Regions from separate parts of the Homo sapiens genome. Here all the other regions are linked to region 1. The links come from fine-mapping of genetic effects on gene expression. A gene starts in region 1. Each other region holds a variant in brackets. All regions are shown on one strand. Distances are from middle to middle. Region 1 holds the start of RHBDD2 (rhomboid domain containing 2). Region 2 has its middle 70 kb from the start of SRRM3. Region 3 holds the start of HSPB1 (heat shock protein family B (small) member 1). Region 4 overlaps STYXL1 (serine/threonine/tyrosine interacting like 1).

What was found. PIP is the estimated chance that this variant, and not a neighbour inherited with it, causes the effect.
Region 2: its variant is fine-mapped to the expression of RHBDD2 in whole blood (TOPMed, PIP above 0.99).
Region 3: its variant is fine-mapped to the expression of RHBDD2 in whole blood (TOPMed, PIP above 0.99).
Region 4: its variant is fine-mapped to the expression of RHBDD2 in whole blood (TOPMed, PIP above 0.99).

Annotation. Positions count from the first base shown.
Region 1 is chr7:75,874,128-75,882,231 of GRCh38, forward strand. RHBDD2 (rhomboid domain containing 2) reads left to right here and starts at 4,907. Exons shown (of 4, transcript NM_001040456.3): 1 at 4,907-5,133; 2 at 7,702-8,104. The coding sequence starts at 4,956. RefSeq lists an enhancer at 4,603-5,211 and silencers at 4,758-5,007, 5,108-5,287.
Region 2 is chr7:76,128,112-76,136,215 of GRCh38, forward strand. No RefSeq gene overlaps it. Among named protein-coding and RNA genes, the nearest start is that of SRRM3, 70 kb to the right of the region's middle. The variant G/A (reference allele first, on the strand shown) is at 4,251.
Region 3 is chr7:76,300,145-76,308,248 of GRCh38, forward strand. It overlaps HSPB1 (heat shock protein family B (small) member 1), which reads left to right and starts at 2,529. Exons shown (of 3, transcript NM_001540.5): 1 at 2,529-2,932; 2 at 3,658-3,721; 3 at 3,840-4,148. The coding sequence starts at 2,569. The coding sequence ends at 4,029. The variant C/T (reference allele first, on the strand shown) is at 4,257.
Region 4 is chr7:76,001,239-76,009,342 of GRCh38, forward strand. It overlaps STYXL1 (serine/threonine/tyrosine interacting like 1), which reads right to left. Exons shown (of 9, transcript NM_001317785.2): 6 at 4,021-4,166; 7 at 2,520-2,617. Among named protein-coding and RNA genes, the nearest start is that of TMEM120A, 11 kb to the left of the region's middle. RefSeq lists enhancers at 1-67, 7,248-7,427. The variant C/T (reference allele first, on the strand shown) is at 4,907.

The DNA.
Region 1 (8,104 bases):
AGTCTGGGAAGAGAGACAGACACAACAAACAGGATTTTTTTAAAAATATTTTTTTAAATATAATAGAAATGGGGGTCTCACTATGTTGTCCAAAGGCTAGTCTCTAACTTGTGGGCTCAAGCAATCCTCCTGCTTTGGCCTCCCAAAGTGCTGGGATGACAGGTGTGAGCCACTGCACCCAGCCTTTCTTTTTTGTTTGTTTGTTTGTTTGTTTGTTTGTTTGTACAGACAGGGGTCTCACTATGTTGCCCAGGCTGGTCTCAAACTCTTGGGCTCAAGTGATCCTCCTGCCTGGGCCTCCCAAAGTGCTGGGATGACAGGCGTGAGCTGCTGTGACTGGCCAAAAACCAGGAAGTAAATACCGTGTTATACTTGCCATGGTAGAGATGTGTGTAGTGGTAGAAATAGAACAACCTGGCTGGGCACAGGGGCTCACGCCTGTAATCCCAGCACTTTGGAAGGCCAAGGCAGGTGGATCATGAGGTCAGGAGATCGAGACCATCCTGGCTAACATGGTGAAACCCCGTCTTTACTGAAAATACAAAAAAATTAGCCAGACGTGGTGGCGGGCGCCTGTAGTCCCAGCTACTCGGGAGGCTGAGGCAGGAGAATGGCGTGAACTCGGAAGGTAGAGTTTGTAGTGAGCCAAGGTCGCACCACTGCACTCCAGCCTGGGCGACAGAGCGAGACTCCGTCTCAAAAAAAAAAAAGAAATAGAACAACTTGGCCAGGTGCAGTGGCGCACGCCTATAATCCCAGCACTTTGGGAGGCCAAGGCAGATGGATCACTTGAGGCCAGGAGTTTGAGAGCAGCCTGGCCAACATGGCGAAACCCTGTCTCTACTAAAAATACAAAAATTAGCAGGGCGTGGTGGCATGTGCCTGTAATCCCAGCTACTGGGGAGGCTAAGGCAGGAGAATCACTTGAACCTGGGAGGTGGAGGTTGCAGTGAGCCAAGATCACGCCACTGCACTCCAGCCTGGGCGACAGAGTAAGACTCTGTCTCAAAAAAATAAAAAGAAATAGAACAACTTTAGAGATCTAATGACCCAAGTTCAAATCCTAGCTCTTCCACTAACTCACAGTGTGACCTCCTCACATCCTATTCGTCCCTCGGTCAATCTTATCTGTTTTCTTCATCAAAACCCTGCAAGATAAGACTTAGTTCCCATTTTATAGATGAGGAAACTGAGGCTCCCTTACCCAAGATCACTCAGGCAGCGAGTGAAAGAGCCAGGGTGAGGTCCTGCTTCCTCCTGACTTCCAGCCTGAGCTCCACCAGCTCCACACTGGCTGCTTCTCAAATGCTAATGTAGGAGCCATTAATGTCTCCTTTAAGGGAACATTAAAGGAAATGGCCAGTATAACATGGTATTTATCTCCTGGTTTTTGGCTTGGCTCATGCCTGGAATCCCAACACTTTGGGAGGCCCAGGCACGAGGATCACTTGAGCCCAAGAGTTTGAGACCAGCCTGGGCAACATAGTGAGACCTCTGTCTGTACAAACAACAACAACAAAAAGGCCCAGTGGGCTGGGCGTGGTGGCTCAAGCCTGTAATCCCAGCATTTTGGGAGGCTGAGATCTCAGGCGGATCACCTGAGATCGGGAGTTCGAGACCAGCCTGACCATCATGGTGAAACCCCGTTTCTGCTAAAAATGCAAAATTAACCGGGCATGCTAGCGCATGCCTGTAATCCTAGCTACTCGGGACGCTGAGTCAGGAGAATCGCTTGAACCGGGGAGGCGGAGGTTGCGGTGAGCCAAGATCACACCATTGCACTCCAACCTGGGGAACAAAAGCGAAACTCAGTCTCAAAAAAAAAAAAAAAAAGTGCAGTGTCTCACACCTGCAATCCTAGGTTTCCCTTAAGGGAAACGTGAATATCTCCTGCAACTGCCCTCTCCGAGCCTAAACCCTCTGCACAGCAAATGCAGAAAACTCTTTCTACAGAGAGCTAGGTGGGCTGACTGGCCATGCCATCCTAGACTGGTGTACCTCAGGTCTCCTCTTCAAAAAATATCTTGAAATTCTTGCCAGAAATTCAGTGTGAAATGCATTCGGGATGGTGGCTGTTGTTATAACAGTCCCCAGGGGTCTCAATTACGTGAGAACCCTCGGCTTCTGGACAAGAGACAAGGAAGGGAAGTAGGTCACATCCCAAAGGCATCAGGGCTAATAACTTTGCATTGAACATTTTCTGTGGCCCCACTGTGTGCTAGGTGCCAGGGCTGTGGATACAGACACAGGTATAAATCAGACATGGCTTCTGCCCTTGGTAAGCTCACAATTACGGGCACAAATATGCAATGATAGTATAATATGGGAAGTGCCTCAGGAGGCTGAGGCAGCGAACTGCTTGAACCAGGGAGGAGGAGGTTACAGTGAACAGACATTACAGCACTGCACTCCAGCCTGGGTGACAGAGCAAGACTTCGTCTCAAAAAAAAAAAAAAAAAATTCCTGGAAGACTTGTTGCCTAATTTTAAGTTACTTAACTTCTCTGTATCTCCATTGCTTCATCTGTAAAACGGGCGTAATTACAGAACCAGCCTCACAAGGGTTGTGAAAATGTAATGAGTAACTACATAAAAAGCACACAACAGGCTAGGCATGGTGGCTCACACCTGTCATCCCAGCACTTTGGGAGGCCAAGGCGGGACGATTGCCTAAGCCCAGGAGTTCAAGACCAGCCTGGGCAACAGAGCAAGATCCCATCTCTACAAAAAAGAAGCAGCTAGCTAGGTGCGGTAGCACGCACCTGTGGTTCCAGCTACTTGGGAGGCTGAGGCAGGAGGATACCATGAGCCCGGGAGGTCAAGGCTGCAGTGAGCTATGATTGTGCTACTGAAGCAGGACACACAAGCCCCAAAATTTAGCCTCCTTCCTTCAGAGCCAGCAGGAGCTTCTAAGCTATGGGGGGCAGCAGTTACAGCTGAGTCAAACCAAAGCCTGCAGCCAAGGGCAAGGAGCTGATAACACTAGGGTGGGTGTGTGGGGAAGGAGCCAAATACTTCTACCATGTGAGGGGAGGGAGTACTGGGCAGGGTCACTGGAGAAAGCGAAAAAGGTAGTACCCTTGAAGGTACTGCTGGGCACAGTGGCTCATGTCTGTAATTCCAGGACTTTGAGAGGTCAAGGCAGGCTTATCACCTGAGGTCAGGAGTTCGAGACCAGCCTGGCCAATGTGGTGAAATCCCATATCTACTAAAAATGCAAAAATTAGCTGGGCGTGGTGATGCACACCTGTAGTCCCAGCTACTTGGGACTCGGGAGGCTGAGGCACAAGAATCACTTGCATCTGGGTGGCAGAGGTGGCAGTGAGCAGAGATCACGCCACTGCACTCCAGCCTGGGTGACAGAGTGAGACTCTTGTCAAAAAAAAAGGAAGGTCTACCTTAAACAGCTGTTCTCCAGCAAAAGCACTTTTCAAACTGTAAAGTGCTGAAATAGATCTCGGTTATGAGTGTTCTATTACATCCCTAACTTTTGAGTCCCTTCCATTGAATCCCTCTCCCGTTTCCTGTCCCTTTTCCTTTTTTTTTTTTCCGAGATACAGTCTTGCTCTGTCACCCAGGCTGGAGCGCAGTGGTGCGATCTCGGCTTGCTGCAACCTCCGCCTCCTGGGTTCAAGCGATTCTCCTGCCTCAGCCTCCGGAGTAGCTGGGATTACAGGCACGCGCCACCATGCCGGGTTAATTTTTGTAGTTTTATTAGAGACGGGGTTTCACCATGTTGGCCAGGCTGGTCTCTAATTCTTGACCTCGTGATCCGCCCGCCTCGGCCTCCCAAAGTGCTGGGATTGCAGGCGTGAGCCACCGTGCCCAGCCTCCTGCCCCTTTTCTTCAATATGAAGATAAAGCTGCCCCTGGCTGTACTGGAGGCCAATTCCGGGCCATAGCAGGAGGAACTGAGTTCTAATTCTGTCTTTGCCATGTAACTGAATTACCCAGGGCCCTCCCTAGTCCTGTTTCCTCTTTGGTGTAATAGGGATGAATACAGATGGGAAGATCGTGATATGAAAGAGTTCTGTGAGCTGTAAGGCATAATAATCATGAGGTATTATTACAGGACCAACAGGTGCCTAGGCCCGCTGTGCAATAACAGACCAGTTACACTGAGGAAGCAGGGTTATCAGCAGAAAAAGGGTTTAAAGATGGCAGGGTGCCTAGGAGGAGACGCAGGGAGACCAACAAATCCATCTTCCCCAAGGAGTTCCGGGCTGGGATTTTAAAGGGCATTGTGAAGGGTGAGGGGCTGGAAAATTGGGGTCATCGACTGGTCAGGGTAAGGGGGTTGAAATCCTCAGGATATGGAAACTGCAGTCCCCATTGAGTCTTGCTTCTGTGGGCTCCTTCAGAACAACTGGTGTCAGTAATTATGCTGGTATGCGGGACCTGAAAGAATATCTCCAAGGGAAAACGTTTCATAATGTTCAAGTTGTTATCTATGGAGTTAAGGGGAATTGTAATCTTGTGACAGGGTCTACGTGATTCTAGGACAGACGATGGGCACCTATCATAGCTGATACACAGAGCTATGAGCAAGCAGGTCGGAGAGCAAGGTGACCTAGTGATGAACGCAGAGTGTGCTGCAAGCTTCGTTTATTTTCGTTTTTCCCCCTCCCTTCTTCCCTGATTAATTTCCTAAAGTTTATAGGAGCAGTTTCAGTACCAGCCCGAGTAGGATGGAATCAAACACGGTGCTGGAACATTCCTACCCGGAAGTGGCCCCGACCCCCCTCCCCCCGTCCCGGCCTCCCACGCACGGGGGGGGGGGGGGGGGGGGCTGATCGGCGCTACCGGATTGGACAACTTGGCATGGGGCGGGGCCTCTGGGAGGCGTGGCCTCCGGCCGGCTCCTCTGCTGTTGCCAAGGGAAACTGCCGCGAGGAGGCGGAAGGAGCAGAGGACCGGCAGCCGGCGTCGAGGCGGGGCGCGGGAACGACGGCGGCCATGGCGGCCTCGGGGCCCGGGTGTCGCAGCTGGTGCTTGTGTCCCGAGGTGCCATCCGCCACCTTCTTCACTGCGCTGCTCTCGCTGCTGGTTTCCGGGCCTCGCCTGTTCCTGCTGCAGCAGCCCCTGGCGCCCTCGGGCCTCACGCTGAAGTCCGAGGCCCTTCGCAACTGGCAAGGTGAGCAGGGGCGGGCCGGGATCGCGGGGCGAGTCCTTGTCCTCCGACTTTGCCGGTTCCTGGGCTCTAGCCTCCGGGACTCGCCCCTTCAGGCCTCACCGCCAGTCTCCCCCTGTCTCGGTCCTCATCACCATGCCCGCCCCCCGGAGGACCGACCTCCAGCACCGTCTCTTGCTCTCCGTGTTCCACACCTTTGTCTGCAGACCCCATCTTCGTCATCACTGTAATCCCTTCCCTACCCGAATTTGTTCCCTTCCCTGTCGCCACCAGACTGGTTAAGGCCCCAAATCCATTCGCTAGCAAATCCATGCTCGCTCTCCAAGGGTAAAGATTTTTCGTCTCCCCCTCCCATTTCACATACACACCTACGTCTGCTTTAGGCCTAAGCCCCACTGAAAAACGTTTTTCTCTCACCTACATCACGACAATTGGACTTTATCCACAAACCCCTATAAGCCCTATAAACGTCCTGCCCTCTTGAGATTTGGAATTTCTTCTGCTTTTTCATCTGTATCTTAATCTTGACTGCCATTCCCAGCTCATGGGGGTACCAGGGTGTCTTCTGCCTTTGGAGAGAAGTGTTTGTTTTTCTCTAGGGGAGAGAAATTTTGCAGACCAATTAAGTATAAACATCCATTCCTGAAAGACATTCCTAGTCTCCGTGTCTTCCTCATTTTCTCGAGAGGAACACAGGAAATTTGCATATCTCCTGCTGTTTTGCAAAGCACACACACTGATATGTATTAATTTCGTTTAACCCTCACAAGGATCCCATGACGTAGGACCTGTTATTGGCCCGTTATCTAGATAAGATTGAGGTTTCATGCAGAGAATCGCAGAGCTGTTGCGTCATGCAATTGAGATAGGAATCTATATTTTTTTTTTTATTCTGTGATGTTTTGGAACTAGAGCCTTCGGGTAGATAATCTCCAAATCATGTACAGTTGCTTCTAGAATCTTTTCATGTTTATACTTGGAATTTCAGTTTTGGAAATACTCAACAAATAATGAAGTACTCTTCAGATAATGAAGCCTCTGGTGATGGCCAGACTGAGGTATATGGTTCCATAGCCTGCTTCCCCACTCCAATCTAAAACTGTTCCCCCCACCCTAGGTATACATAGCACCACCTCACAGACAGAAGCAAAATGCCAACCTAACCTTAACCTCCCACTTTCTGGGGTTCACTGCTTCCCTGGGTGTGGGTTTCGTGGATATGTGAGCGTTAGAGACGTAAGGGACCTTTGAAGTCCTCAATCTAACTCTTGTTACTTTACAGTGAGGAAACTGACGCCTAGAGGACCTGTGACATGATTAAACTCAGCCAGCCTGGATGTAATAGAGCCAAGATTCCACTCCAAGTCTTTAGACTCCCAAGTCCAATATTACCATCAGTTCTTTGGTCTCTCTCCTTGAGTTTAGTCGTATTTGGGCATGCAGGGACATAAAAATACTTAAGAGATAACCACTTCTAAAATTTTTTTAGAGATAGGGTCTTCGTCTTACCCAGGCTGGAGTGCAGAGATGCAATCATAGCTCACTGCAGCGTTCAACTCCTGGAATCAAGCGAGCCTCCTGCCTCAGCCTCCCAAGTAGCTGGGACTACAAGTACACATCATCACACCTGACTAATTTTTAAATTTTTTTTAAAGACGGGGGTCTCACTATGTTACCTAGGCTGGTCTTGAACTCCTGGGCTCAAGTGATCCTTCCACCTAAGCCTCCCAAAATGCTGGGATTACAGGTGTGAGCCACCATGCCTGGCGATAACTGCTTTTAGAAAAATAAAAGGCCAGGAATGATGGTTCGTATGTGTAGTTTCAGCACTTTGGGAATTCAAGGCAGGAGGATCACTGGAGGCCAGGAGTTCAAGGCTAGCCTGGGCAACGTAGCAAGACTTTGTCTCTACAAATAAAAATTTAAAAAAAGGAAAAGGAGGATTCTTTGATGTCTTATTACATATAAAGCATCAGTTTACCTGTGAGATCGGATAAGCACTTTCTGAGGAGACTTATAATTTCTATAATCTTTATTGTTAATGATAGTGTTATAATTCTTACAGCTGCAAAATAATTCATGGTCCCTTTTTTCTTCCTCTGAACAGCCACTATGGAAGGAGGGGTCAGGATTACAGCAGAGGAGACTGGCACACAGAGTGTTAAGTGACACCCACTCAATCCACCCCGAAGCTGTTACACTTAATTAACCCTCAAACTGCCCAGTGAGGTAGGTCAGTATGAAAACCTGAAAAAGGATTATAAAGCACTTTACAAATTCAGAGACTGCCCTCTACCGAAAAGTATTATTTTTTTCCCTCTGGAAGTCAGTTACCGCTAAGAGTTGCACCAGGCCTGGGGAAGTGTAGGGATTAGATATTCATGCCTCTCCTTTGAGGCTCTGGGTCCTTCATTGTTGAACGCACTGCTTGTATTGCCTCCTGCTGCGACTCACTGGCTCTCACTTCTCTGTCACGGAGGGGGGCTCTCTGCCTTTCCTAGGCGGCTTATAACCTGGCTTCCCTCCTGGGAGCAACCCGCCGCCAGGCCTCTAACCCGACTCCCTCTGCAGTTTACAGGCTGGTAACCTACATCTTTGTCTACGAGAATCCCATCTCCCTGCTCTGCGGCGCTATCATCATCTGGCGCTTTGCTGGCAATTTCGAGAGAACCGTGGGCACCGTCCGCCACTGCTTCTTCACCGTGATCTTCGCCATCTTCTCCGCTATCATCTTCCTGTCATTCGAGGCTGTGTCATCACTGTCAAAGCTGGGGGAAGTGGAGGATGCCAGAGGTTTCACCCCAGTGGCCTTTGCCATGCTGGGAGTCACCACCGTCCGTTCTCGGATGAGGCGGGCCCTGGTGTTTGGCATGGTTGTGCCCTCAGTCCTGGTTCCGTGGCTCCTGCTGGGTGCCTCGTGGCTCATTCCCCAGACCTCTTTCCTCAGTAATGTCTGCGGGCTGTCCATCGGGCT
Region 2 (8,104 bases), 250 kb after region 1:
TCATCCCCCCAAGAGCCCAACGTGGGCTTTTTCCTATATGCTCTCAATACACTTCCCCAAGACACAAGCTGTCTCTCAAATAAGCTCTCGGGCAGAAAATCTCTCTCTCAGATGACTTTCAAGCCTAGAAATCACCATTTCTGACAAGCTATGAACAGTGAGGGTATTATGCCACAGAACAAACCAAGATCCACAAATGCACAAAAAACAAAACATCCAAAGAGACAGTCACTTGGATAGGCATGAATTTCATAAACAAAACTACCTATTTCAATTCTCTTGACTCCTCCTACAGAGTAAACAAATTTCTCTAAAACACAATGTCTTTTGACCAAAGAGAGTATGGGTTTCATATATTGTCTGACCCTCAAACCCAATTTCAGTCTCAAATCTGAGCTGATGTTCTCAAAAAGTTGACAGAAATTACAAAGCTGAGCCTATAAGCATTTTGGATCTACTCTGTGTCTCACTCAGGCAGAGAAGAAAAAAAAGAGTATCAGAACATTACCCTTCTTTGATCCGACCCTGGAAGACGCACTGAAGATTTCTTCACTGTGGTAACCTCGTGGGTCTTCTCGTTGGTTTTCTTTCCTTCAAACTTGGAGAATGTGAGGGATTGGGCCCCTTGGCTGCTCTGACTGCTGGCAAAGGCCTCTTCCTCCCACTGGAGTCTGCAATTCAAGAGAGGATTAGAATGATCTAGATATTCTCCAAGATTTCTCTGTATCTGAAGGTTATTACTCCATTTATTCAGGAGGATCTAAAGATTTTAGAACTAGAGACTAAATATGCAAAATCAGTCTGAGGTCTCACATAGCTACAGGATGGACTGCTCTTCATGCACTACAGATTTCAAATGGGATCTTCTCATGCTCATTCAGCAACTGCTCTAGGGTTACATGAAAGAAACCAAGTCTAGTCCTTTTCCCCAACAAGCTCAGTGAAATAAAGAAAGTCTAGTCCTTTTCCCTAACAAGCTCAAGGTTGGAACAAACAAAAAGGTAAGTAAACAACTGCTATATAATGGGACAGCTGCTACATCAGAGAGTAAAAATTGAGTGCTGTGAGAACACAGAAAAGAACAACGCAATCTGCTGGAGGAGTCTGATGAGGCTTTACAACGGTGCTGTTTGGGGTGAGTCTTAAAGGACAAACAGGATCCTTTTTTTGTTTCTGTTTTTTTTTTTTTTTTTTTTTGAGACAGTGTGTCACTCCATCACCCAGCCTGGAGTGTAATGGCACGATCTCAGCTCACTACAACCTCTGCCTTCCAAGTTCAAGCAATTCTCATCCCTCAGCCTCCCAAGTTATTGGGACTACAGGCACACACCACCACGCCTGACTGATAAGGATGATTAGGATTCTACGTGAAAGGACATTCCAGGAAGAAGGAACTACGAATGTGCAAGCCTGTGGTTTGCTTCACAACAAGCTGAATGTAGCCAGAGCACTGGCGTGTGATGAACTGTGATGCTGGCTACACAGGAAGGCACCAGAGGGTAGGGAATCTTGATTGCTAAGCCCATTGCTAAGCCTATTCTGGATTTCATCATGCGGTGGGGAAGCAAGAAAGACTGTAAATCCAAAAAGTTATTGTTGTCAGATCTGTGCTTTAGAAAGATCATGCAGGTAGCTGTAAGAACAACTTGAAGGATAGAGAAACCAGAGACATGGACAGGAATTAAGAGTATATTATAAAGGTTTAAGTAAAAGAAAATAAATACCTGGAAAAGAGGAGTAGAAAAGGTAAAATTCAAAAGACTTTTCTAAGTTGGAACAAACAGAACTTGGTCAAATTGTAGGTGCCAAGGGAGGTTAAAGAGAAATCAAGAGTGAAACCAAGGTTTTTTAGCTAACTTGGTAAAGAATGACGCCATTAACTGACTCACGAGAAGGGTTAGGAGGAAAATGTTCAGAATGGGGAGAATAATAAATAAAAGCAATAAATTTGGCTTCGGATTAGCTGCATGTGAACCATCTGTAATAAATAACAAACACAGGCCGGGTGCGGGGGCTCACGCCCTTAATCCCAACACGCTGGGAGGCCAAGGCGGCTGAATCACTTGAGCTCAGGAGTTTGAGACCAGCCTAGGCAACATGGTGAAACCCTGTCTCTACATAAAATACAAAAATTAGCTGGGCATGGTGGCATGCTCCTGTAGTCCTAGCTACTTGGGAGGCTGAAGCAGGAGGATCACTTGAGCCAAGGAAGCAGAGGATGCAGTGAGTTGAGACTGCACCACTATACTCCAGCTGGGGTGACAGAGCAAGACCCTGTCTCAAAACAAAACAAAACAAAAAACCAAGCACTATCTATAAGACAGTGGTTCTCCAAGTGTGATTCCCCAGACAGCAGCAGCAGCATCACCAGGCAACTTGTTAGAAATGCAGATTCTCTAGTCTTACTCCCAAATTACTAAAATCAGAGACTCTAAGGGTAAGGTCCAGCAATCACTGCTTTTACAAGCTTTCCAAGAGATTTAGCAGGGTCACAATTAAAAGCAGTAAGAAATAGAAACAAAAATCACAGGTGGAGGTGCTAAGTCTGAGGATGGAATCAGGACACCTCTTTCTCTGGAACAGACAAGAAGTTAATATAAAGGTATTAGTACATTTTTATGTGGCAAGGGGAGGAAGCTGAGGCAGTTGGTGCCTAGTGCCCTCTACTGTTTTTGAAACAGGATCTGCTACTGACAGCATCAGGCATGCAGTGGAAACCCTGAGGAGATCATTCATGTTCTGGGCTAAAATTTTCTCTTTGATTGACCACAGTCACTGAAAGCAATGTGTAATTTCTAATTCTCTGAGTTCACCACAGATGCCAGCAAAATAGTCACTCAACAAATATTGGCTGACTGGATGAAAAAAACAAAAAAACTACCAAGAAGATTTGGCAGAATTCCATTTGACTTTCTTCTGTTGAAGCAGTTTTAGAATTTCCAAAATGCTCTGGCAAAGAATTAACATTATTCATGGCATTTTATTAGTTCCTATGCTCACTAGCCATCCCATCATTTAATTTTTTTTTTTTTTTTTTGAGACAGAGTCTCACCCTGTCACCCAGGCTGGAGTGCAGTGGCACGATCTCGGCTCACTGCAACCTCCAACACCTGGGTTCAAGCAATTCTCCTGCCTCAGTCTCCTGAGTAGCTGAGATAACAAGTGCGCACCACCACGCCTGGCTAACTTTTTAAATATTTTTAGTAGAGATGGGGTTTCACCATGTTGGTCAGGCTGGTCTCAAACTCCTGACCTCAAGTGATCCTCCCGCCTCAGCCTCCCAAAGTGCTAGGATTACAGGCATGAGCCACTGCGCCTGGCTCATTATTTAATTTTTAACATCACTGTATTTCCAGATAATATAAACTGCCTTTGACTAATCTAATTTTTAAGGAAAAGTTAAATTTCTATAATGCAAGGACTATGTATACAAGTCAACAGATTTCTACTACTGTGTTTTATCACTGAGCTACATGCCACGCTGAATATATTAAAAGAACAAGGGAAATAATGCTTGATGAGTGCCATTTGCAAGCCCTGCACTGGGTACATCATATTTATTAGCTCATTTAATCTTCACCGGGAAATATGCCTATCTCCATTCTTCCACTCCAAGGAGCTTATTGTCTAAATTTGAGAACTAACACAACCCAAAGAATATAATCAGAAGTTAAGACATACACAAAATGAAGAAACTATTGAAAGCTGTTCATTAAAGGTTGACTGAGAAGAAGAGGAGAAAACATCCTTTTCCTTAATTTTAAACTGACTTGCTGATAGGTCAAAGCAGAAATTTAAAAAAATGTATCTGGACGGTGACAGAAGTATGTATCCAGTCACGTCACTGTTCAACTACCCCTAGTTAAGTCCTTTTACCGCTCCGCCAGCTCCCAGTCCTCCTGAATCTCCTTCTGCCTGGCTTTGTGGTACTCTTCCCTCCAGCACTTGGAGCAGAAACCCTGCCAGGCAGGGTTGCCGTAGTAACCACATCCTTCCTTGCACAGGAGGTCTGACTGATGCACATGAATTCCTCAGTGTTCAGACTTAAGGCTCATCTTCTTCCTGCTAACCAATGAACAAATAACAAAGTTCTGTTGAAAAGGAATTATCATTCTACCAACTAAAATCTTACCAATTATGAACAAAAAGTGAGTGATTCCATTATCTTCAAGCTGTAAGAGAGGGAAGAAGGGAATGAAAGAGGGAGGGAATGAGGGAGGGAAAGAGGGGAGGAAGGAAGAAGGAAAAAA[G/A]AAAAGTTAACTATGGTAAATTCCTGAAACAGTCATATTAAAGACTTATTCCCTGCCGAAAATACACAGAACCCATTAAGAAAGGGCTAACATTGGATTAAATACCTAAACGTAAAGGCTGGAAACTACAAAACTTAGGGGAAAAGCTTCCCAACACTGGATTTTGCAATGACTTCTAGGATATGACACCAAAAGCACAGGCAACAAAAGTGAAATCAGACAAATACATTAATTACATCAAGATTTAAAACGTCTGCACAACACAGGAACCAACTGACAGAGTAAAAAGGAACAACACACAGAATGAGAGAACATATCTGCAAACCACATATCTAATAAAGGGTTAATATCCAGAATATAAAGGAACTCCTACAAGTCAATAACAAAAAAATAATAATAATAATCCGGTTAACAAATGGGAAAGGACTTCAATAGACAATTCTCCAAAGATATACCAACAGCCGACAAACATGTGAAAAAATGCTCAACATCACTAATCATCACAGAAATGCAAATCAAAACCACAATGAGATATCACTTCATACCCATTAGGACGGCTACTGTAAATAAAAAAAAACAAACCCAGTATGGGCACAGTGGCTCATGCCACTTTGGGAGGCCAAGGTGGGAGGATCACTTGAGGTTAGGAGTTCAGGACCAGCCTGGGCAACACAGCAAGACCCCATCTCTACAAAAAAATACAAAAACTAGCGAGGTGTGATGGTGTATGCCTGTAGTCCCAGCTACTCGGGAGGCTGAGACAGGAGGATCGCCTCTCTAGGAGGTGCAGGCTGCAGTGAGCTATGATCACACCACTGCACTCCAGCCTGGGTGACAGAGCGAGGCCTTGTCCAGAAAGAAGAGAAGAGAAAAAAATTGAAATAATACCATAATTTCCAAAGTCAATTTTCTTTTCTACTGTATAATATTTAAAGTCATTTGTTCATAGTCTCACAGCTGCATGGTAAATCGCTACGCAACAATTTCCTTTCAAACTGAAACCACATGGTCCTCATTCTTCTCCACAATAACAAACTGCCAAACAAGCACAGTAAAAAAGCAGCACTCTACAGCATTCATTCAAGGGACTCACATGTGCAGATAAAATTAGGCCCTATATCTTGGAGGTCTCATTAATTTAACTCAAACATTTACTAAGTGCCAACTGTGTGCAGAGAACTGAGCTAGATGGCACTGGTGATGCAACTGATAGAACACGTCTTTGCCCTCATGAAGCTCATAACCAAAAGTACACGCAGACTGAAAAACACGGAAAAAGAGAAAGTGTTAGGAAACTGTTGGGGAGTAACGCACATACAAATTCTGACCTAGGGAGTACAGAGAGACCACTTGGGGATGCTGGTGATAGACCTTAAAGAGCCTTGTGTTGAAAGGGTCTTGGAAAGATGACAGAAAGAGGAAGGATATTCTGGACAGGAAGAATGCCTTTCACAAAAAGCTCAGAAGCAGGAAGGCAAATGTAAAATATGAATGATGTAGTATAGACAGAAGATAAACTAAAGAAGTTAGGTGGGAAGTCAAATCATGATGGATTTTTAAAACTCGAAGCTACTGAGTCCAGATGGAAAGTCACCAGCTATCAAACCTGACAGTATGCAATGTGCACTACTTTTGAGGATTCTGAAAAGCAAAATGGAGAAGTGGGGAAGACCAGAATTGAAAGTATCACCCAGCCGTCTAACAGATTACCACTTTCTCCCATCCAATACCACCAGCCAACCTGGAAATGGGCCCCACAGCACAGAGAAAGCTCCTCTAGTTCGGGCTCCAGGCATGTGAAAAGAAACTCTTAACAGCCAGAGAGAATATGGGGATCCCCCACTTACCATCTCCCCCTTCTCTTGAGCCACAGTGCCCAGCAGTCGTGTGCTTTGTCTGCAGCTATGGCTGAAATGAGAGTGCCGGAGCCAAACTCTGAGTCAGGAGAACTATGGATTTTTCCCAATCTCTATCCTTGGTCTCAAATGTGCAGGCAGTGGTGGAAGGACATGGCAGAGTGGAGTAACTAAATCCACAGTTTTCTGGACAAAAGAAAGAAAATATGAGCCCTTTGGGAACAAAAAGTGTGGGAAAAATTGCTGAGGAGAACTCAAGAAAGCAATTTCTAGGCTTACCCCTAGGCTGCATATGCATGGATCTGATGCTATTCAGTACCAAAGGTTTCCAAATTGGAACTAACGGAGAGACCACTATGCAGGTCTCATCAGATCAGCACATACACAAAACAGATGGAAACAGCACTACAAAACTCCCAACAATGGACTGACATTAAAGCCACAGCCCACAGAACCTGTATACCAAACTTGGCAACACAACAAAACACTTTTGCTCTGGGAATAACTGTTTAGAAAATGAAAAGACGGCCGGGCGCGGTGGCTCACGCCTGTAATCCCAGCACTTTGGGAGGCTGAGGCGGGTGGATCAAGAGGTCAGGAGATCAAGACCATCCTGGCTAACACGGTGAAACCCCGTCTCTACTAAAAAAACAAAAAATTAGCCGGGCATTGTGGTGGGCGCCTGTAGTCCCAGCTACTCGAGAGGCTGAGGCAGGAGAATGGCATAAACCCAGGAGGCAGAGCTTGCAGTGAGCCGAGATAAGTTGCACTCCAGCCTGGATGACAGAGTGAGACTCTGCCTCAAAAAAAAAAAAAAAAAGAAAAGAAAAGACAAGCTACAGAATGAGAGAAAATAATGGCAAATCACCTATTTGGCAAAGAACTTACGTACCCAGAATGTATAAAGAACTCTCAAAACTCAGCTGTCAGAAAACAAACCACCCAATTTAAAAATGAGCAAAAAATCTCAACAGACACTTTACCAAAGAAGTTATACACACCGGTGTCCCACATTTCCATGAGAGTCCTTTGCTACATACTGTCCAGTCAAAGATGTTTGTATATTGAACATCCTTACAAGAGAAAGATGATAGCTCCTTCCACAGCAGAAGACAATTTATTAACTGTCCAGTACAGTAAATATAATGTCTCCCTTCATATCAAAGGTTTGAAACATTTGTTTGCCACCCCTTATGAGAGCTGAGTTCCCTGAGCTTGGATTTCCTACTTGTGTCATTGCCCACAGGGAACTTACAGGGCAAAGGTAGTCCACGTGGACATGAGGCTGGTTCTGCTGATGTCCTGTGACCTGTGTCCTCCCCTTTTGCCTCCAACCCAGGAGTTTCATGTCTTGGGCCAATATCCATGAAACCATGGAGACTAACTTGCTACGTTTAAGTAGGGAGAACTCAAAATTCAGGTCCCTTGCAGTTACTGACATGGTGGCAAATAAGCATATGAATAGTTGTTCAACATTGTTCAATCATTAAAGAAATGCAAATTAAAACCACCATGAAATATCACTCAAATCTATTAGACTGGCTAAAATAGAAAATACTGACACAGACTGGGAAACATGGCAAAACCCTGTTTCTACCAAAAAAAAATACAAAAAAATTAGGGAGGGATGGTGGTGCATGGTTGTGGTCCCAGCTACTCAGTAGGCTGACGTGGGAGCATCACTTGAGCCTGGGAGGTGGAAGCTGCAGCAAGCCAAGATCACACCACTGCCCTCCAGTATGGGTGACAGAGTGAGACCCCACCTCAGAAAAAAAATAAATACTGACAATACTAAGTGGTAGCAGGGATGCAGAGCAACTAAAACCCTCATACCTTCCTAGTGGAATGCAAAATAGTACAGACACTAGAGAAAACAGGTTTCATAAAACTGTATACATACGATGACCATCCAACCATGCAATCCCTCTCCTGGGTATTTCCTCTAGAGAAATAAAAACTGCTATTTACTCAAAATTCTGTACATAAATAGTTATAGTA
Region 3 (8,104 bases), 430 kb after region 1:
GATACATATAGTAGGAGATGTGACAGTAATCTTCCTCCTGGCCCCTCTCAGCACTGTGCCATGGAGGTTCTGATCTGGGCCAGCTGCGCTGTTAGGGGAAGGGGGAAAATGGCCAAACCCCATGTATTCTCCTTCCTTTTCCCTCTCTTCAATCCCAGGCAGGTAACAATAATTATGATGTACCAGGCTCCGGGCCAAAGTCATCACCTGCATTAGGTCACCAAATCCTCAGGCCAACCCATTACAGTCATGAGTCACTTAATAACAGACACATTCAACAAATTCCTTGTTAGGCAATTTCATCATTGTGGGAACATCTCAGAGTGGACTTACACAAACCTAGATGGTCTAGCCTACTACACACCTAAGCCATATGGTCTAGCCTACTGCTCCTAGGCTACAAACCTCTACAGCATATGACTGCACCAAATATTGAAGGCAGCTGCAACATGAGGGTAAGTATTAGTGTTTCTAAAGATAGAAGATGGCCAGGCGCGGTGGCTCACGCCTGTAATCCTAGCACTTTGGGAGGCCCAGGCGGGTGGATTACTTGAGGTCAGGAGTTCAAGACCAGCCTGGCGAACATGGTGAAACCCCATCTGTACTAAAAATACAAAAATTAGCCAGTGTCGCGGCACTTGCCTGTAGTCCCAGCTACTCAGGAGGCTGAGGCAGAAGAATCACTTGAACCTGGGAGGTAGAGGTTGGAGTGAGCCTAGATCAGGCCACTGCACTCCAGCCTGGGCGACAGAGGGAGACTCCATCTCAAAATAAATAAATAAATAAATAAATAAAACATAGAAGATGTACAGTAAAAACACGGTAATTGTTTTTGTTTGTTTGTTTTGAGACAGGGTCTTGTTCTGTCATGCGGACTGGAGTGCAGTGGCACCATCAGGCTCACTGCAGCCTCGACCTCCTTGGCTCAAGTGCTCCTCCCACCTCAGCCTCCTGAGTATCTGGGACTACAGGTCCACGCCACCATGCCTGGCTAATTTGTTCTGAATTTTAGTAGAGATGGGGTCTCACTGTGTTGCCCAGGCTTGTTCCAGCCTTCTGGCTTCAAGTAATCCTCCCACATCAGCCTCCCAAAGTGCTAAGATTACAGATGTCAGCCACTGCACCCAGCCAGTAATATAATTTTATGGGACCACCTTCATATTTGCTGTCCCTTGCTGACTTACACATCTTTATGCAATGCATGACTGTTACCATCATTATCATCTCTATTTTCCAGATGGGGAAACTGAGGCACAAAGAATCTAACTTGCACAAGTTCATCTGCTTAGTGATGGAACAAAGATGTGAATTCAGGCAGTCTGGCTTCAAAGTCCACACGCCTAACAACCACACCAGATTACTAGATTGCTTTTTTCTTTTTTCTTTTTTTTTTTTTGAGATGGAGTCTCACTCTGTCACCCAGGCTGGAGTACAGTGGTGAGATCTCGGCTCACTGCAACCTCTGCCTTCTGGGTTCAAGCAATTCTCCTGCCTCAGCCTCCCCAGCAGCTGCGATTACAGGCGCCCGCCACCACACCCAGCTAATTTTTGTATTTTTAGTAGAGATGGGGTTTCACCATGTTGGCCAGGCTGGTCTCAAACTCCTGACCTCTGGTGATCCTCCCACCTCGGTCTCCCAAAGTGCTGGGATTACAGGCGTGAGCCACCACGCCCAGCCCAGACTGCTTTATTTTTGTATTTGTATTTATTCATTTACTTATTTTGAGACAGGGTTTTGCTCTGTAGCCCAGGCTGAAGTGCAGTGGTGCAATCCAGCTCACCACAGCCTCTACTCACCGGGGTTCAAAGGATCCTCCTGCTTCAGCCTCTGGAGTAGCTGGGGCCACAGGCATGCACCACCATGCCCAGCTAATTTTTAAATATTTTTTGGTAGAAGTAGGGTCTCACTATGTTGCCCAGACTGGTCTCAAACTCCTAGCCTCAAGGGACCCTTCTGCCTTGGCCTCCCAAAGTGCTGAGATTACAGGCATGAGCCATGCACCCAGCCCCTTTTTAAAATTTTTTTGAGAGACAAGACTTTGATCTGTTGCCTAGGCTGGAGTGCAGTGGTGAGATCATAGCTCACTGCAGCCTCAACTCCTGGGCTCAAGCACCAGACTCCTTTTATCACATTCTATCTCACACGCGTGTGGTTCCAATCCTGCCTCTGCCACTTCTCAGTTGTATGCCCCAACCCAACCTGTCTGGCTCTGTCCTCCTTAACAGAAGGACGGCCCTGGCCACGGGCCACAGCCAGCAACGCTTAAGCACCAGGGCCGGCGAGTGCCCTGCCGTGGCACGGCTCCAGCGTCGCGCTCTCGAATTCATTTGCTTTCCTTAACGAGAGAAGGTTCCAGATGAGGGCTGAACCCTCTTCGCCCCGCCCACGGCCCCTGAACGCTGGGGGAGGAGTGCATGGGGAGGGGCGGCCCTCAAACGGGTCATTGCCATTAATAGAGACCTCAAACACCGCCTGCTAAAAATACCCGACTGGAGGAGCATAAAAGCGCAGCCGAGCCCAGCGCCCCGCACTTTTCTGAGCAGACGTCCAGAGCAGAGTCAGCCAGCATGACCGAGCGCCGCGTCCCCTTCTCGCTCCTGCGGGGCCCCAGCTGGGACCCCTTCCGCGACTGGTACCCGCATAGCCGCCTCTTCGACCAGGCCTTCGGGCTGCCCCGGCTGCCGGAGGAGTGGTCGCAGTGGTTAGGCGGCAGCAGCTGGCCAGGCTACGTGCGCCCCCTGCCCCCCGCCGCCATCGAGAGCCCCGCAGTGGCCGCGCCCGCCTACAGCCGCGCGCTCAGCCGGCAACTCAGCAGCGGGGTCTCGGAGATCCGGCACACTGCGGACCGCTGGCGCGTGTCCCTGGATGTCAACCACTTCGCCCCGGACGAGCTGACGGTCAAGACCAAGGATGGCGTGGTGGAGATCACCGGTGAGCCCCCCTGCTCCTGCAGGGGAGAGGAGGAGGCTAGCAGGGCGGGCAGGGCCGGGGGCGTGCGGTTGAAACGGGGGTCCCGGGGGCCTGGGGAGTTAAACGTTGGCCCAGCACCGGGAAAAACAGGACTCCTGATTCCCTTGCTCAGGAATTGGGAGTGCGGGTCGCTTCTAAGGGCGCTTTCTGCTCTGTAATCCCAGCGCTTTGGGAGGCCGAGACGGGAGGATCGCTTGAGGCCAGGAGTTCAAGACTAGCCTGGGCAACATAGCGAGACGCGCCCCCCCGCCCCGACCCCGCGCCATTACAAAAAAAAAGCAAACAAAAATTTTTTTAAAGATCATCGATGAAGAGAGAAAATGCGCTTTTCTACAGAGTCCCCTTCCCACCCACAGCCCCATCCCCAGATAAGCGGGGAGTTCCCTGGCGCGGTGCCAGTTTCTAGCCGCTGAGTGGGCGTGTGCGCGGCTCCAAGTGCGCCTGCGTACTGCTCACTCCCCAGCTCCGCGCCCTGCTCCGTTCCTCCCAAAACTCTGAATCGAAGAACTTTCCGGAAGTTTCTGAGAGCCCAGACCGGCGGGCACGCCCCCATCCCCAACCCCCTCTGTTAATCCCTACCAGCCTGCAGTCCTGGCTGCTTCCAAGCAGGAGGTGGGGCCTCTGGCCTAGCGGGGCCGAAAGGCAGTCCCCTCCCCCGCAGTCTGATTTCCCTCTTCCCCCCAAAGGCAAGCACGAGGAGCGGCAGGACGAGCATGGCTACATCTCCCGGTGCTTCACGCGGAAATACACGTGAGTCCTGGCGCCAGGTCGGGGTGGGTGGGTGGCGTGGGGGTGGGGTCAGGGAAGAGGGCACAGGGACCCACCCGGTGTGTAATGTAACGCTTGCCTTTCCTCTCTGCACGTCCAGGCTGCCCCCCGGTGTGGACCCCACCCAAGTTTCCTCCTCCCTGTCCCCTGAGGGCACACTGACCGTGGAGGCCCCCATGCCCAAGCTAGCCACGCAGTCCAACGAGATCACCATCCCAGTCACCTTCGAGTCGCGGGCCCAGCTTGGGGGCCCAGAAGCTGCAAAATCCGATGAGACTGCCGCCAAGTAAAGCCTTAGCCCGGATGCCCACCCCTGCTGCCGCCACTGGCTGTGCCTCCCCCGCCACCTGTGTGTTCTTTTGATACATTTATCTTCTGTTTTTCTCAAATAAAGTTCAAAGCAACCACCTGTCACTGGCCCAGGCCCTGGTGTTTGTGGAAGGAAGCCTCAGGCACCTGCCATTTGCTGGCTTTCAGGAGTCATCTTTGCTCAGGCCCGTGCTGGGCCATGTGGGTA[C/T]ACTGGTGTAGGTTGCTGGACACAGGCTGACTCACATCCATAAAGACAGAGGTCTTAGGGCCGGGCGCAGTGGCTCATACCTACAATCCCAGCACTTTGGGGGGTTGAAGCAGGAGGAGTGCTTGAAGCCAAGAGTTCTAGACCAGCCTGGACAACATAGTAAGACTGTCTCTAAAAAATAAAAATTAGGCAGGGTGGTACTGCACGCCTGTAGTCCCAGCTACTCAGGAGGCTGAGGCAGGAGGATCGCTTGAGCCCAGGAGTTGTGAAGGGTACAGTGAGCTAACATCGTGCCATTGCACTCCAGCCTGGGCAACAGAACAAGATCCTGTCTCAAAACAACCAAAAGCCCAGAGAGAAAGAGTGAGACCCCATCTTTAAAAGAAAAAAAAAAAAGGTCATGATTGCAAGGTCACGATTGCAATTAAAACTGTAAGGTGGGGAAGGAGGAGGAAATAAGAGAAGCACCTGAGGCTTGAGTTCTCAGGAGCACCTAGGTTGGGTCCCAGGTGAAGGGGCACAGAGGTAATTGCACCTCAGAGCTGATGGGAGGATTACTATGTCAAAAGCTTGGCATCGGCTTCAGCACACCCCAAGGACACCACAGTGGACCTGGCAAGCTTTGAGATCTCTGTCACCGCCACACTCCCTGAGGCCAGGGCATCCCTGTTGGCAGTCACAAGGGAACTGGCAAGCCGAAATGGGGTGAGAACGGAGCCCGCAGAGTCTCGGGGTGGGGAGATTGGGCAGAGCCCTGGCCAACCGACGGGCTCAGACCTGTGCTGCTGGCTGGGCCAGCAGCTCTTGTTGCCTGTGTTTATTTCCAGCTGGCCTCCCTCCAGGTGTAGACAGGCTTCCAAGGGCCCAGTTCCCCTCTCTCTTGTCTGCCCTTGCCCTAGCTGCCACCCTCTCACCAGGCCCAGGGAAAGTTGAGGTAGAAAGCAGATGGGGGACCAGGCGCGGTGGCTCACACCTATAATCCCAGCACTTTGGGAGGCCGAGGCGGGTGGATTACCTGAGGACAGGAGTTCGAGACAGCCTGGCCAACAGTGAAACTCCGTCTCTACTAAAAGTACAAAAATTAGCCGGGCATGGTGTTGCATGCCTGTAATTCCAGCTACTCAGGAGGCTGAGGCAGGGGAATCGCTTGAACCCAGGAGGCAGAAGTTGCAGTGAGCCAAGATCCATGCCACTGCCCTCCAGCTTGGGGGACAAGAGCAAAACTCCATCTAAAAAAAAAAAACAAAAAACAGATGGGAGCTTTGGAGCTCAGTCCCAAGGTCCTCAAATATTTGAGGGACCCAGAGTCTGAGGCTGTAGCAAGATACTCCCATGTTCAAGGCGGAGCATGCAGTGAGCCGAGATCGTGCCACTGCACTCCAGCCTGGGCGACAGAGGAAGACTCCGTCTCAGAAGAAAAAAAAAAAAAAAAAAAAAAAAAAAAAAATACTCCCATGTTCTTTTCTCAGCCCACAGTCTGACTTTCCCAGGTTCCCTAAGAAGGGTGGCACCCTGCAGGCGAGGGCCTGGAGCATGTCCACACCACCCCCAATATCACCCCCCACCACCTTGCTGCTTTTTTGAGACCAAGTTTTGCTCTTGTTGCCCAGGCTGGAGTGCAATGGCGTGATCTCGGCTCACTGCAACCTCCGCCTCCCAGGTTCAAGCGATTCTCCTGCCTCAGCCTCCAGAGTAGCTGGGATTATAGGCGTGCGCCACCCTACCCGGCTAATTTTTGTATTTTTAGTAGAGACAGGGTTTTTCTATGTTGGTCAGGTGGGTCTCGAACTCCCAACCTCAGGTGATCTGCCCGCCTCAGCCTCCCAAAGTGCTGGGATTACAGGCGTGAGCCACCACGCCCGGCCCCAGCTTCTTTTTTAGGGACAGTCTCCTACTGTCATACAGGCTGGCGTGCAGTAGTGGGATCTTGGTGCACCATACCAAAGTGTTGCAGCCTGGAACTCCTAGGCTCAAGGCATCTCCAGGAGCGCGCCACAAGCCTGGCTGATTTTTTTTTTTTTTTTGGTAGACAGAGTCTCGCTATGTTGCCCAGGCTGGTCTCAAACTCCTGAGCTCAAGCCATCCTCCTGCGTTGACCTCCCAAAGTGCTGGGATTACAGGGGAGAGCTGCTGCGCCCAGCCCAGTCTACTCCCTCGAGTTCCCTGTCCAGAGACCCACATCTGGAGCAGGGTGGGGAGTCAGAGCAGGTCCCAGCCCACGCTCTAGGGCTCAGCTCAGATGATGTGAGCCTGGGGCAGCACCTCTGGGCATAGTGGGCTCTGGCTGGCAGGACAGGACAGGCTGGCCCAGATCTGGGGGTCTCTGCTGGGTGTTAGATTTGTGGAGTCTTTGTGCTGCTTCTGGGGTGGTGGGGCAATTCTGGGCCTCTCCAGGCCTGTCCTGCCTTTTCTTTTTTTTTTTAGATGGAGTCTCACTCTGTCAGCCAGGCTGGAGTGCAATGGCATGATCTCAGCTCACTGCAAGCTCCGCCTCCCGGGTACAAGCGATTCTCAGGCCTCAGCCTCCTAAGTGGGATTACAGGCACCTGTCACCACGCCTGGCTAATTTTTGTATTTTTAGTAGAGTCAGGCTTCCTCCATGTTGGCCATGCTGGTCTCAAATTCTGAAAGAGGAGAATTGCCTGAACCTAGGAGGTGGAGGCTGCAGCGAGCTGAGATTGCACCACTGCACTCCAGCCTGGGCAACAAAGTGAGACTCGGTCTCAAACAAACAAAAAGGCAGGACAGGCCTGGAACTGCCCCTCCCCCCCAGGACGGGTGTTGTCTAGGGCTTGCTGACCTCACAGTCTGTGAGATCAGGCAGCCCCGGGCCTTGGCTGCCCAGGAGTGAATTATTTCCAGGCGCCATCATCACTCCGACTATAGAATCAACAGGATTTGACAGGTGCAGCTTTCGACTGCTCTGTTGAGAGGGTGGAGACAGAAGCAAAAGCTGCCCACAGAAAGGCGACAGGGAACCCCAGAGCTAGGTCCCAAGAGCCTCTTGGTGATGGAGGAGAGCCACCAAGGGACAGGAGGGTTGGGGGAACTGGAGCTCCGGCCCAGGGACAGAGCCCCAAACCACCTCCAGCCCAGGCACAGAGCCCCAGACCACCGAAGCCCTATGCCACCATGGCAGAGCCCAGGGCAGGGCAGGGGTCAGGCTGGCCCCCCCAAACACCTCCCCACCATTCCCACATGCATACACCAGGACCTGGGGGGTTGCAACAGTGCCAGAGGTCACGGGTTGGCAGGGGAGGGAGAGGAGGAAGAAAGCAGAAGAGCAGAGGGATGCGGGTGAGGCTGGGCTTGTCTCAGACAGTCTGGCACTAGCCCTCAAAGCTCAGAATCCCTGATATGGGGGCTAAGCCCCACTGCCATACTGCCCCTCCCAGGGAAATTGCCCCCCAGGGAATATGGGGGGAACCTCTGAGTGTAGCTCCCCTGGGGCCTGGAGGGCATATCAAGACATGGGGGATAGTGAACAGCATCATAGCTCTAAGTGTCCCTGATCTGGCTGGGCGTGGTGGCTCACCCCTGTAATCGCAGCACTTTGGGAGGCTGAAGGGGGCAGATTAGCTGAGGTCAGGAATTCAAGACCAGCCTGGCCAACATGGCAAAACCCGTCTCTACTAAAAATACAAAAATTAGCCGGGTGTGGTGGCGCACGCCTGTAATCCCAGCTACTCAAGAGGTTGCAGTGAGCTGAGATCAGGCCACTGCACTCCAGCCTGGGCAACAGAGCAAAACTTTCAGGAAAAAAAAAAAGTGTCCCTGATCTGTAAATGTGTAGTGGAAACTATAGAAAGGCACTGCAGGCTGGGCGCAGGGGCTCACACCTGTAATCC
Region 4 (8,104 bases), 130 kb after region 1:
AGGCAAAGACCTTCTCCTGAACTCCAGGTTTCTAGCCCAGGAAGCTCTGCTACCAACTGGCCTCCCAGTATGGGGCGGACAGGACCATCGTCATCCCAAAAACAGTCAGGAGCTGACAGAGCCAGTGTAGCCTGAGTGCCAATCCTGACTGCCACTCACTGGCCGTGGGGCTTGGGCAAGTTACTTCCTTTCCTTTCCTTCCCCCATCTCCTCTCTTCTTTCCCCTTTCTTCTCCTCTCTACTCCTCTCTCTCCTTTCCTTCTTTCTTTGTTGAGACAGAGTTTCACTCTTGTTGCCCAGGCTGGAGTGCAGTGGCACAATCTCAGTTCACTGCAACCTCTGCCTCCTGGGTTCAAGTGATTCTCCTGGCTTAACCTCCCGAGTACCTGGGATTACAAGCACCTGCCACCACGCCCAGCTAATTTTTTGTATTTTTAATAGAGATGGGGTTTCACCATGTTGGCCAGGCTGGTCTCCAACTCCAGACCTCAGGTGATCTGCCTGCCTTGGCCTCCCAAAGTGCTGGGATTATAGGCATGAGCCACTGCGCCTGATTTTTTTTTTTTTTTTTTTTTTTTCAATATAGACATGCAGTCTCACTATGTTGTTCAGGCTGGTCTTGAACTCCTGACCTCGGGTGATCTGCCCACCTTGGCTTCTCAAAGTACTGGAATGACAGGTAAGAACCACTGTGCCCAGCCTATTTTTATTTATTTTATTTTAGAGACTGGGTCTTGCTCTGTTGCCCAGGCTGGAACGCAGTGGTGTAATCACAGCTCACTGCAACCTTGAACTCCTGGGCTCAAGTAACCCTCCGCCTTAGCCTTCTGAGTAGCTGGGACCACAGGCATGTGCCACCATATCCAGCTAACTTTTTTGTACAGATGGGGTCTCACAATGTTGCCCGGGCTGGAGGGTAAGTTACTTGAGGCCACGGTGTCCTCATCTGGAAAACGGGATCACAGTATACTACCTACTTCATACAGTTTGGTTTTGTTCTGTGCTGAGCCCAGTGCCTGGCACAGAAATATCAGCTCTAATCACAGCACCCCTGAAGCTGTGAGTCCTGCCCAGGGAGAGGAAATCTAAGCTGGCACCCGAGGCTGGTCTGGCAACCCTCAGGAACTGAAGATAAGCCTACCAAGTGCAAAATCACAGACTGCCAGGGCTGAAGAAGGACGCAGAGATGACGATGGCCACCTTCCTCACCATCTGAATAAAGGAACTGAGCATGCAGTTTAATTTATTGACTGGCTCAGTGCTACCCAGGGAGGCAGGCTAGATGGGGTCCCTCCTTGGGCCACAAGGCTCTGCCATCTCGAGGTGGGACACATGGGAAGTCTCAGCCTCAGGCCCTGGTTGAGCAACATTTGACATCTACTGGGCAAATAAAGGATGGTTGGGGCTGGGTGTGGTGGCTCACGCCTGTAATCCCAGTACTTTGGGAGGCTGAGGTGGGTGGATTGCTTGAGCTCAGGAGTTCAAGACCAGTTTGGGCAACATGGCAAAACCCCATCTTTACTAAAAATGCAAAAATTAGTTGGACGTGGTGGTGCATGCCTGTAGTCCCAGCTACTTGGGAGGCTGAGGTAGGAGGATTGCTTGAGCCCAGGAAGTAGAGATTGCAGTGAGCCAAGATTGTGCCACTACACTCCAGCCTGGGTGAACAAGCCAGACCCCGTCTCGAAAAATAAAATTTAAAATAAGGGATGGTTGGGCCAAAATGCCATGCTCCAGCCCCTGGTACAGTGGCTCAGGCCAGGAGCTGTTGGTGCCAGACAGGCAGGCATGGGGTGGGGACTCTGACCTGACTCAGCCCTGCTCTCTCTACAGATCTTACTCTCCTCTGGCAATCTGGAGCCCCAGGAATGAGTAAAAAATCCACTCTTGATGAGTTAAGTAACTGGTGGGCATCACTTGGGTGTGGTGGCTCATGCCTATAATCCCAGCACCTTGAGAGGCTGAGGTAGGAAGATCGCTTGAGGCCAGGAGTTCAAGACCTGCCTAGGCAACATAGCAAGACCCCAACTCCACCAACCAACCAACAAACAAAAACAAAGAAAATCTTGGAAGTCAGAACTGAAAGAGCTTTGTAGTCTTCCTTCCATTCCACCGACATCCCACAGACCAAGGATGAAGGCGGGGATGGAGAGAGATAGATTTACTACTGGTCCCCAGAGCTCAGCCCAGAGCCTCCATGAGCATGTGCACTTGTGGGTAGCCATCACTCTCATTTTACAACAAGCCCAGAAGGGCACAGCCATCTAGCCAGGGCCAGAGCCTTGGGCCCCACTGCCCCCGAGGTAAACACCACGGTTGCTCGTTTCACTGAGGGCTCCCCAGAAGTTGGACGTGTCCTGGAGCTTGTCCCACCCAGATGGAGCATATGCCGAGCTGGGCCCTTTCTCTCTAGAGCATGGGGAAATCACGGTCCAGAATAAGCCTGTGAAGGAGGCTCCACTGCCCCTCTGCTTCCCAGACACAGGCCAGTTGCTACCCGGCCAAGGAACGCTCCTTACCAATGAAGTGACACATGTGGCGTAAGAAGGGAAGAATCTGGGCTTCCGGGGAATCTTCTATCCGGATGTGCAGAAGCTTGTCAGCATCGCCTGCAAAACTACACGGAAGGACCACACAGGTCATCAGGTGGAATGCAGAATGCAGGCATCCCCATTGTGGGGTTTTCATCACAGCAGAAGGGCCACAGGGAGGACGCTGAGCTTGTGTAAGGGGGAATGTGCACAGGTAACTCAACCTCTCCTGGAAAAAAACATCCAGGCTGGGTGTGGTGGCTCATGAATAAGCCCAGTAATTTGGGAAACAGAGATGGGAGGATCACATAGCGAGACCCTTGTCTTTTTTTTTGTTTGTTTGAGACAGATTCCCGCTCTGTTGCCCAGGCTGGAGTGCAGTGGCACGATCTCGGCTCACTGCAACCTCTACCTCCCAGGTTCAAGCGATTCTCCTGCTTCAGCCTCCCAAGTAGCTGGGATTACAGGCATGTGCCACCACAACCGGCTAATGTTTATATTTTTAGTAGAGATGGGGTTTCACCATTTTGGCCAGGCTGGTCATCAAACTCCCAACCTCAGCTTATGTACCCGCCTTGGCCTCTCAAAGTGCTGGGATTACAGGTGTGAGCCACCACACCCAGCCAAAAAAATTTTTTTAAGTACCTATCTTGGCCAAGCATGGTGGCTCACACCTGTAAACCCAGCACTTTGGGAGGCCAAGGCAGGCAGATCACTTGAGGTCAGGAGTTCGAGACCAGCCCAGGCAACATTTTGAAACCCTGTCTCTACTAAAAACTACAAAAATTAGCCGGGTATGATGGCACACACCTTTAGTCCCAGCTACTGGGGAGGCTGAGGCAGGAGAATCACTTAACCCTGGAGGCGGAGGTTGCAGTGAGCCAAGATTGTGCCACTGCACTCCAGCCTGGGTGACAGAGCAAGACCCCATCTCAAAAAATAATAAAATAGGCCAGGCGCGGTGGCTCATGCCTGTAATCCCAGCACTTTGGGAGGCCAAGGCGGGATGATCACAAGGTCAGGTGATCGAGACCATCCTGGCTAACACGGTGAAACCCCATCTCTACTAAAAATACAAAAAACTAGCTGGGCGTGGTGGCGGGCGCCTGTAGTCCCAGCTACTGGGGAGGCTGAGGCAGGAGAATGGCGTGAACCCAGGAGGCGGAGCTTGCAGTGAGCCGAGATTGTGCCACTGCACTCCAGTCTGGGTGACAGAGTGAGACTCCGTCTCAAAAAATAATAATAATAAAATAAAAACTAAAGGGAAGGGATAGCATTAGGAGATATACCTAATGCTAAATGACGAGTTAATGGGTGCAGCACACCAACATGGCACATGTATACATATGTAACAAACCTGCCCATTGTGCACATGTACCCTAAAACGTAAAGTGTAATAATAATAAAATTAAAAAAAATAAATAAAATAAATTTAAATATTATATAAAAAATAAAATGAAATATAAATCAGTAGTTTCTCTTTACTTACAAGGGCCCTGTATCCATGGAGACATTGACATGGGCTTTGATTTTCAAGTCCTTCTGAATCTTGGGGTCACAGGCTTGACTGAAATTGCCAACGAAGACCTTCCCTGGCACGATTTCAATGGGGTATGGCTGAAATGCATCCAGTTCCTGAAGTGTGGAGGGAGAAAGGCAGCTATGAGCATATTCCTCAGGGAAGAGGGATGTCTATCTCTTGAAACACAGCTCAGCAAACGAGCGTAAAAGGGCAGTTCCAGGACAGTGAATGTGACGGAGATCCAGACTTTGAAAGAGATTGGCACACGGTAACTTGCATGGGGTGGCACAGGGCGAGTCATGACGAAAGGACTGAGCCTCATCGTGCAGAGCGCTGGGTCTCAGCACTGGTGTCCATTCCCTCCGTGGCAACTGTTTACACTTGGCCAGGTGCACAAAGGTTGCAGTGAGGACGCTGTGGCCCAGAACTGTAACAACCCAGCATGTACTGGGGGCTCAGGAGGATGGAGAGGGACAGCTCTCTTAAGACCACCAGAATTTAAGCATCGAGAGAGAGAGAGAAGGAGGAGGAGGAGGAAGAGAGAGGAGGAGGAAGAGAGAGGAGGAGAGAGGAGGAAGAGAGAGGAGGAGAGAGGAGGAGGAGGAGGAGAGAGGAGGAGGAGGAGGAGGAGGGAGGAGGTGGAGGAGGAGAGAGGAGGTTTCATCATGTTGGCCAGGCTGGTCTTGAACTCCTGACCTCAAGTAATCCACCTGCCTCGGCTGCCCAAAGTGCTAGGATTACAGGCGTGAGCCACTGTGCTCAACCCATCTTTTTCTTTTCTTTTCTTTTTTTAAAGATACAGGGTCTCTCACTCTGTCACCCAGGCTGGAGTGCAAGTGGCTCAATCATAGCT[C/T]GCTGCAGTCTTATCTTCCTGGGCTCAAATGCTTCTCCTACCTCAGCCTCCCAGGTAGCTGGGACTACAGGTGCGCATGACCATACTCAGCTAATTTTGATACTTTTATCTTTTGTAGAGATGGGGTCTCACTATGTTGCCCAAGCTGTCCTCGAACTCCTGGCCTGTAGTGATCCTCCTGCCTCAGCCTCCCAAAGTGTTGGGATACACATGTGAGCCACCCTGCATGCCCAGAAATGAAGCCAGTGTATGTGCAGAGGGGTAGAGAGAACAAGACACCTACTTAAATGGGAGCTTCCTGAGTTCCAGGTCCAAAGTTATCATTAAAACTTTCGTTTGCCGGGCGCAGTGGCTCAAGCCTGTAATCCCAGCACTTTGGGAGGCTGAGGTGGGCGGATCACGAGGTCAGGAGATCGAGACCATCCTGGCTAACACGGTGAAACCTCGTCTCTTCTAAAAAATACAAAAAATTAGCCGGGCATGGTGGCGGGCACCTGTAATCCCAGCTACTTGGGAGGCTGAGGCAGGAGAATGGCATGAACCTGGGAGGCGGAGCTTGCAGTGAGCTGAGATTGTGCCACTGCACTCCAGCCTGGGCGACAGAATGAGACTCCGTCTCAAAAAAAAAAAAAAAAAAACAAAACAACAACAACAACAACAAAAAACTTTCGTTTATTTGAAACACAGACAAGGATTATCTCTACATTTCCCAAAGTGTGTTCTAAGAAACACTAGTCCCCCATAAGGCACTATGAGAAAAGGGTTCAGGGGTTCAGATAACCAAATGCAATCTGTGTGTTCCACATCCATATATTCAAGCAACCTTGGATGAAAAATATCCAGAAAAATAATTCATGGTTGCATCTGTACAGAACATGTACAGACTTTTTTTCTTGTCATTATTCCCTAAACGATACAGTATAACAATTATTTACATAGCATGTACATTGTATTAGGTATTATAAATAATCTAGAGATGATTTAAAGTATACACAAGAGGGGCCAGGTGAGGTGGCTCACATCTGTAACCCCATCACTTTGGGAGGCCGAGGCAGGCGCATCACCTGAGGTGAGGAGCTTGAGACCAACCTGGCCAACGAGTGAAACCCCATCTCCACGAAAAACACAAAAATTAGCCAGGCATGATGGTGCATGCCTGTAGTCCCAGCTACTCGGGAGGCTGAGGCAGGAGAATCACTTGATCCTGGGACGTGGAGGTTGCAGTGAGATGAGATCATGCCACTGCACCCCAGCCTGGCAACAGAGTGAGACTCTGTCTCAAATAAATAAAGTATACGAGACGATACGCTTAGGTTAGACGCAAATACTACACCATCTTGTATCAGGGAGTTGAAGATCCAAGGATTTGGTATCTATTGGGGGCCCTGGAACCAACCTCCATGGATACTGGACAACTGTACAAACGGACAGCTGTATCTATGATTCCTCTCTCGGAAACAACACGTACATTAGCAATCAAAGGTTCAAAGAAGTTGGGCACAGTGGCTGCTCATGCCTGTGATATCAGCACTTTGGGAGGCCAAGGTGGGAGGATCGCTTGAACCCAGGAGTTCAAGACCAGCCTGGGTAACACAGCAAGACCCTTGTCTCTACAAAAAATAAAAAATTCGCCAGGCATGGTGGCACATGGCTGTACTCCCGGCTACTCAGGAGGCTGAAGTGGGAGGATCCCACAGGAGTTTGAGGTTACAGAGAGTTATGACCGCATCACTGCACTCCAGCCTGTCTCTCAAAAAAAAAAAAAAAAAAATAGCCGGGCACAGTGCCTCATGCTTATAATCCCAGCACTTTGGGAGGCTGAGGTGGGTGGATCACTTGAGGTCAGGAGTTTGAGACCAGCCTGACCAACATGGTGAAACCCTGTCTCTACTAAAAATACAAAAATTAGCCAGGTGTGACAGTGCACGCCTGTAATCCCAGCTACTCGGGAGGCTGGGGCAGGAGAATCACTTGAACCCAGGAGGTGGAGCCTGCAGTGAGCCAAGATTGTGCCATTGCACTCCAGCCCGGGCAACAAGAGCAAAACTCCATCTCAAAAAAAAAAAAAAAAAAAAAAAAAAAAAAATCTCAAAGAAGCTCTGCAGTAGAGAAATCCACTCCAACTGGATAACTTGATGTTTCCATGAGGCTCTGATTAGAGACCACTTTCTCCATTATTACACCACAGAAAATGCTGACCTTTGCCAAAGATCAAAATCAGTTCCAAAAGTCCCCTGGCTCTAAGTCTGACTCAGAAATAACATTTTAAGGACCTCAGGCGTGTGGGTCCTTCAGAGCCACCTGAACTCAGCACATCTCACTCCCTTCCCCACGGCAGTGAACCCTCTGCAAGCCCACATCCTTCCCAAGCTACCAGCTTCGAAAGCCATTAGTAAAGAACAGACACCAAGCTGAGCCAGTTCTCCAGCCTGTGACACGGAGATGCATGACCCCCCACTGCCTGCGGGCAGGCCCAATTTACTCCAGCATGTGGGCTGCCCCTAACCCGGATGGACGCTCAGCTTGCTGGTGCCAAATGAAATCCCCCTTTCAATTTCCACTTAAAAATCTCGCTAAAAGGCCAGGCATGGTGGCTGATGCTTGTAATCCCAGCACTTTGGGAAGCTGAGGCAGGTGGATCACCTGAGGTCAGGAGTTCAAGACCAGCCTGGCCAACATAGTGAAACCCCATCTCTACTAAAAATATAAAAATTAGGCGTGGTGGCACACGCCTGTAATCTCAGCTACTCTGGAGGCTGAGGCAGGAGAATCACTTGAACCCAGGAGGTGGAGGTTGCAGTAAGCCCAGATTGTACCACTGTACTCCAGCCTGGGCAACAGAGATGCTATCTCAAAAAAAAACCAAAACAAAACAAAACAAAAAAAACCCCACAAAAATCCCATAGCAAATCTATCAACCCCTCTTCCTGCTGTTTTTAAACCAGCTTCCTTTTCTGCGGTTGTGTGGGTTTGGCTGGGAAGAGGGTGTGATGTGGATAAAAACACACTGTACTGTAGAATGTGTGTAAATGCTCAGTGACACAATGCAAACGAAACCAGTATCTCAAATGAATATGCCCGAACTGGGCACACTGCCTTCCCCCAAAACCACCTCCTTCTTCCCCCACCCCGCCCCCTCCCGAGTGTTCCCCAGAATGAACCACATCACAGCCCCCGTCACCCACGCCTAAAACCAGG